Homo sapiens: one gene and its partner. The protein of the gene in region 1 purifies or fractionates together with the protein of each later gene. This does not show direct contact. Each region holds a gene or a part of one and is shown on either strand. Other genes may lie near its edges. The genes, in order: CREG2 and GLDC.

Region 1 (3,500 bases):
TTCATGAGGGATCCACCCCCATGACCCAAACCCTTCCCACTTGGCCTCCCCTCCAACACCGGGGATCAGAATTTAACATGAGATTTGGAGGGATGGATATCCAAACTATGGCACCACCCTTCTCCCACCCTAGTGGGTGATCATGAAGAAAAATTGGCATATCATGTTTCTATGACTTCCTTTATGCAAAAAGGGTAACAAATCAATTTCTCATAACTTGCTGAGTCGTACAATGAAATATTATTGATTACAATAAAAAATGCAGCTAATAAATGAGAAAGTGATGCAGCCCTAAAAGAAACAATAATAGAAAGTTCCTGAAGTCCAGAGAGCAGGCAAGACGTTAAAGACTTAAACATCCTCCCTAAAGTTGCTCAAAACTTGGGACAGGCAGTTAACCTTGGGAGTTAAAGCGGTGGGGCTGTAACAGGCAGCTTGTGGAAAAGGCTTAGCACCACCTCCCATAAATGTCATTGTCCCTCCCCAAAAGAACATGAAATTTAACAAAGTGAGTATATCTGCCATGCACAGGCAGCTTCAAGAAGAATCCTTTCACCACCCCTTCCAAACAGGATGCCACTGCTGAGTATCTCCTGTGGAGAAATTCTAGAGCCACCACGGAGTGAATTGGGCAGACTGGGGACCACCTCACCTTGATTTACTACCTGTCAGAGCCACTGTGATGCCATGATCCCCCCTCATCCCTGGTGTTGTATTTCCTAGCCAGAGGCACAAGCTAAGCTCCCAGATCAAGTCGAGCCACAGCTCTGCACTGAAAAAGCCTTTTTTGGTGTTTGTTAGATCCAAGGACTGCCATTTGGGAACTGCCTGCCCGTCAGTGATGGCCCCTTCAACAATAGCACTGGGATTCCTTTCTTCTACATGACAGCCAAGGACCCCGTGGTGGCTGATCTGATGAAGAACCCCATGGCCTCGCTGATGCTGCCAGAATCAGAAGGGGAGTTCTGCAGGTAGACGACGGTTTGCCCTCACTCACACGGGTCCTGGGAAGTTTTTGACAGAGAGTTGGGGGTGGGTTTCTCTCTGGGTCACATGACTTTAACAGAACTCTGAGATGCACATTGATGTTCACCCTTGAAATCAGATAAATTAGAATTCCACCACTCACCAAGCAGTGTGCTTTGTAGCAAGTTAGTTGATCTTTGGGAGCCTCAGTTTCTTCATCTGTAAAATGGGAATAATAATCTTTGCCTCCGAGGGTTATTGCAAGTGCTGGAAATAGGTGTAAAATGCTTTGTGCAACACTGGCAGGAGTCCAGACAGCTCCTGTTGTTATGGAAAAGGGCGAGGGTGGGAGTGAGGGTTGGTAAAGGAAGAGCCAGTAGTTGATCTCCCCAGCACGGAGGCGTGCAACACAGAGTCTATATATTGTCTTTCCAATTTATTTCTATCCTGTCCCCAGAGATATGTGCAATAAGGAGCCAGCATTTTTTAATTCACTTTTTCAAAAGCTCTCTGAAAGAAAACACTTCTAAAGACATTTAAGCACTAACAGAACATTGATGCAGGCCCCTTTATCTGAATTCAAAATGCAAAGCCTGAACTCGCATCCTCCCCGGGAAATGTCTGCATGGAGCTGGTGTGGGAGCTGCATGTGAGATCCCCTCGTCCTTCCCAGAGGAGCAGCAAATGCCCAGGATGGCCTGGGGTGAGCCCTTTAACCTCCAGGACCTTAGTCACTCCACCTAAATGTAGTGATGCTTTAGAAAATCAACAGGCCTCATCCCATCTGTGAAATTCTATTATTCTTTATGCACAGCACGGAAAACATAATAACCAAACAATGTATTAGTTCTTACAGAGGCTAATCAAAGCAACTATACAATGCAAGATGCATCCTGGATAAGCCATTGTTTCCCCTCAGCCACGACAGACCACATGGAGACACTTCAGCTGACCCTGTTCCCCACCAGGTTACAGCAAGAAGCCAGGAAAAGAAACATTTCCTTTCTCATGGAATATTCTCCCTGTTCTTGGTCAGTCAAGCTTACTGTTACTAGAAGTACATTTCCAGGATACCTTTCTTTTCTTTTCTTACTCTTTTTTTTTTTTTTTCGAGATAGAGTTTCGCTCTTGTTTCCCAGACTGGAGTGCAGTGGCGCAATCTCGGTTCACTGCAACCGTGAACCTCTGCCTCCCAGGTTCAAGCAATTCTCCCTGCCTCAGCCTCCCAAGTAGCTGGGATTACAGGTGTCCACCACCACGCCTGGCTAATTTTTGTATTTTTAGTAGAGACAGGGTTTTGCCATGTTGACCAGGCTGGTCTCAAACTCCTGACCTCAGGTGATCCACCTGCCTCGGCCTTCCAATCCAGGATACCTTTCTAAGCTTCCCAGGCTTTCCTCATTCAGGTATCCTGAAAGCAGTCGTGCTGGAGCATGTGGCTCCCAGAACCCAGAGCACAGCCGCTCTGGGGACAGGCAACAGAATATATACTTGGGACAAAGCTGCGGCAGCACTCCAGCTGGGGGAGGATTTGTCAACTGGCAACCCCCAGGCAAATGGCAGCAGGAGCTGGAGCGAGGAGCAGTGAGAAATCTGACTTAGGAGAGGTCCTCATGGGGAGAGGATTTCAGGGTGACTTCCTTCAGTCCCTTGGGAAGACTTGCCTGCACAGCCTAGAGCCACGTATGCGGACCTTCTTCATGACAGGCCACATGTAGGACACGCAAACACCTGTGCAGCCCCCTGGCTAACTGGGTGAGGCAGCTCGAGGCTGGAGGTGAGCACCCCGGGGCCAAGGGCAAGAGCATCTCAGCATACCTGTTACTCTGGCCTGGGAGAGGAAGGATGAGACGCACTCATGGGTACCCCTTAGTTTATGTCTTCTTGTAAAACTGTTTCTCAGAACTGCTATACCCCTGACACTGTTTAAGCTTCTGAAGTATTGAAATATGATGTAAATAAATGCCTACAAAACCAAGTTTGGCCTTAGTAAGCATCACACTTCAATGCAAAGCTTACCAAGCAATGGGGCTTTTGTCACCCTAGGGTCTACGACTTCCCATAATCGGCGTAAGCCCAGATGTGACTCACCTGTGTGAGGTTCGCATTCCAAGTGGAGCTTTACATTTTAGGTTTCACCTTCAGAATCTTGGCAATACTGAACACAGGGACTTAACAAGTCAAAGCCATGTGGCTGGCATTGAAAAAGAGCCCCGAATAAACAAGCCAAGCAAGGGGTTCCTAGGGCCACTGGAATATAGCGAGGTATCTGGTAGAAGTGTCCGCAGCTACCCAAACACCTGGGTAGAGCTTCGAAGGACAGCCCGGCAAGGTACCAGCAAGGTGCCCCTCCTGCCTGTCGCCGGGCCTGAAGAGGTCTCCAGCAAAGGCAGAGATCGTCGTCACGTGCTTCAGAGCTTCACAGCATCTCCCACAGGAGCGGGGAGATTCAAGAAAGCGCCCATGTCTTACGATGATAACGACAGGTCAAGGCCACCTGCTCCTCTCAGCTTCAGAAGGCAGCTCATACTCAG
Region 2 (3,406 bases), on another chromosome or scaffold:
GGTAGGAGGAGAAGAGAGTGTATTGCTCTGACCCCTCCTCTGTCCGTGTCTCTGTCTCAGATGTCTCCACACTCCCTGACCTGCGTTACATCTTCCCACTGGGACCGGCCTTATTCCAGAGAGGTGGCAGCATTCCCACTCGTAAGTTCTCTGAATCTGAATGTGCCAGCTGGGAAGGCATGGGCCAGCTCCTATCCTGACGGGTGTACGCTCTTAGCCTCATGATTACAGAAACCATATGTGGGGCACCTTGTGAAATAAGGGTCTTGAAGAGGAATGAGGAGCAAAGAAATTGGCTTTCAGAGGCGAGGTCACACAGTATCAACCACAGATCTGGGAACCCATAGGGAACAGAGTGGGGGAAAACTGAATACGAGTCCTGCCCAGTGGACCAATGTGTTTCCCTCCACTGTGGGACAGGGAGATGGCGCCCAGTGCAACCTTCCTTTCCTTTCTGATTCTTATATGGAGGAGAAGGTTCTGTGTAGTCTGTTTGAGTGAGGTAGGGAGAAGGCTAAAAATGTGCCAAATTATGCTATGTGCTGTTTATGGATCTATGCAGTAATAGTATAAAAACATAATGAGAATGGTAAATCCTGTATTCATTGGAGAGGAGAGGAAACAAAATGATGCTTTTTTTTTCTTTCTTTTTTTTTTTTTTTTTTTGAGACGGAGTCTCGCTCTGTTGCCCAGGCTGGAGTGCAGTGGCATGATCCTGGGTTCACGCCATTCTCCTACCTCAGCCTCCCGCTGGGACTACAGGCGCCTGCCACCATGCCCGGGTAATTTTTTGTATTTTTAGTAGAGACGGGGTTTCACTGTGTTAGCCAGGAAGGTCTTGATCTCCTGAACTCGTGATCCGCCCACCCCGGCCTCCCAAAGTGCTGGGATTACAGGCGTGAGCCATCACGCCCAGCTGATGCTTTTTTTTTAATCGTTCAAATTTTTATTTTAATACACAGTATGAGAAATTAACTTTTTTTTTTTTTTGAGATAGAGTTTTACTCTTGTTGTCCAGGCTGGAGTGCAATGGCACCATCTCGGCTCACCACAACCTCTGCCTCCCAGGTTAAAGCGATTCTCCTACCTTAGCCTCCCAAGTAACTGGGATTACAGGCATGTGCCACCATGCCTGGCTAATTTTGCATTTTTAGTAGAGATGGGGTTTCTCCATGTCGATCAGGCTGGTCTCGAACCTCTGACCTCAGCTGATCTGCCTGCCTTGGCCTCCCAAAGTTCTGGGATTAAAGGCACGAGCCACTGCGCCCAGCCGAGAAATTAACTTTTAAATCAACTGAATTGTATGGAAAATGACATAGCAAATAAATTAGACCTATGTTAAAAGAGAAGGTCAGCTAAATATCCAAACTTAAGGATATAATGGGCAGATAAACATAGATTCCAAAGTCTTCTTTAAGCAGTTGAAGTCTTTCAAACACAACTTTGCTATAAACTGGTCCAGATATCAACAGCACATAGGGATGCTTAACAGGGGTGGTGATCAGGGACACGCCTCCTGGGAAATGCCTCTTTTTTTTAAATGGTAATGTAGGGTTGGATTTTAGGTTCTCAGAATATTTGCTGGGCTGATGGTGTCTTAGGTTGTGGGACTAGCATTGCCACCTCCTTTGCCCTAAGAGAAACCTCCCAGAACATCTCACAGCATTTCCATCTTTTGTCCTTTGCAGCCCTTCGTGAAACCAGAGAACAAATTCTGGCCAACGATTGCCCGGATTGATGACATATATGGAGATCAGCACCTGGTTTGTACCTGCCCACCCATGGAAGTTTATGAGTCTCCATTTTCTGAACAAAAGAGGGCGTCTTCTTAGTCCTCTGTCCCTAAGTTTAAAGGACTGATTTGATGCCTCTCCCCAGAGCATTTGATAAGCAAGAAAGATTTCATCTCCCACCCCAGCCTCAAGTAGGAGTTTTATATACTGTGTATATCTCTGTAATCTCTGTCAAGGTAAATGTAAATACAGTAGCTGGAGGGAGTCGAAGCTGATGGTTGGAAGACGGATTTGCTTTGGTATTCTGCTTCCACATGTGCCAGTTGCCTGGATTGGGAGCCATTTTGTGTTTTGCGTAGAAAGTTTTAGGAACTTTAACTTTTAATGTGGCAAGTTTGCAGATGTCATAGAGGCTATCCTGGAGACTTAATAGACATTTTTTTGTTCCAAAAGAGTCCATGTGGACTGTGCCATCTGTGGGAAATCCCAGGGCAAATGTTTACATTTTGTATACCCTGAAGAACTCTTTTTCCTCTAATATGCCTAATCTGTAATCACATTTCTGAGTGTTCTCCTCTTTTTCTGTGTGAGGTTTTTTTTTTTTTAATCTGCATTTATTAGTATTCTAATAAAAGCATCTTGATCGGAAGAATGCCTTTCTCTTGGTGTACTTTATAGTTTTACCACCGTTACAACCTAGATTCAGTGGGAGCTGAAGGGCAATGAGAACACCCAACCCAATAGCCATTGTTACATCATCAGTTTTGCCTTCGACTGGCTGAAGAAACAGTTGTCTTGGTCAACAGTGAAAACCACTTTGACCCTTTTTGTTGGAACTGAGTTAGAGTGCATGTAACTGTACTCCAGCTATGGAAGGTCAATCAAATAGCAATTTATCTTTTCTCATTTAAGTCCAGAGGTAATAAGCCAAGCACTGGTGCTCCTTCAGTTTTCCCGCTCTGCCCTCCTTTGCATAAAATTTTCATCCGCATGGTCTCAAGAAGGCTGTTGCATTTCCAGGCGTCTGACATACCCATTCTAGTTAGGATTAAAAGGGAAGAGCAAAGGCCAGGCGCGGTGGCTCATGCCTGTAATCCCAGCACTTTGGGAGGCTGAGGCGGGAGGATCACCTGAGGTCAGGAGTTGGAGACCAGCCTGGCCAACATGGTGAAACCCCATCTCTACTAAAAATACAAAAAATTAGCCGGGCATGGTGGTGCATACCTGTAGTCCCAGCTACTTGGGAGGCTGAGGTGGGAGAATTGCTTGAACCTGGGAGGCAGAGGTTGCAGTGAGCTGAGATTGCACCACTGCACTCCAGCCTGGGCAACAGAGTGAGACCTTGTCTCAAAAAAAAAAAAAAAAGAAGAGCAAAAGGCAGCTTCCACCCAAATCTGCTTCTTTTGAAATGTTTTCGAATATGTTCCACTCAGTAACTGCTGCAGCTGGCCAAAATTGGTTCAAATCTCACTCCCAGCTACAAGAAAGTGTGGGGAAGTCTGTTACCTGGGCATGTGACTGCCCCAAACAAAATCAGGAGTATGTTAATTTTTAAAAAGGTGGGGAGAATGGGTTTTAGGTTGGCAACTAGCATGCCTGCCACAAATGACTTTGCCTTAGAAGTAGCAAATGCTCTAATCATGACTACTTGGTTTCTTGCATGGCTGCTTCCT

Evidence for each region.
Region 2: the proteins of CREG2 (region 1) and GLDC purify together in Homo sapiens (affinity purification with mass spectrometry; one large-scale study listed by BioGRID and IntAct). This does not show direct contact.

The regions. Positions count from the first base shown.
Region 1 is NC_000002.12:101,381,004-101,384,503, reverse strand, and holds part of CREG2 (protein CREG2 precursor), read left to right. Parts: intron 1-801; coding exon 802-971; intron 972-1,423; coding exon of another isoform or gene 1,424-1,496; exon of another isoform or gene 1,497-1,813; coding exon of another isoform or gene 1,814-1,829; exon of another isoform or gene 1,830-2,944; intron 2,945-3,500.
Region 2 is NC_000009.12:6,531,443-6,534,848, reverse strand, and holds the end of GLDC (glycine dehydrogenase (decarboxylating), mitochondrial precursor), read left to right. Parts: intron 1-60; coding exon 61-141; intron 142-1,688; coding exon 1,689-1,832; 3' UTR 1,833-2,382; downstream 2,383-3,406. UniProt on the Homo sapiens protein: The glycine cleavage system catalyzes the degradation of glycine.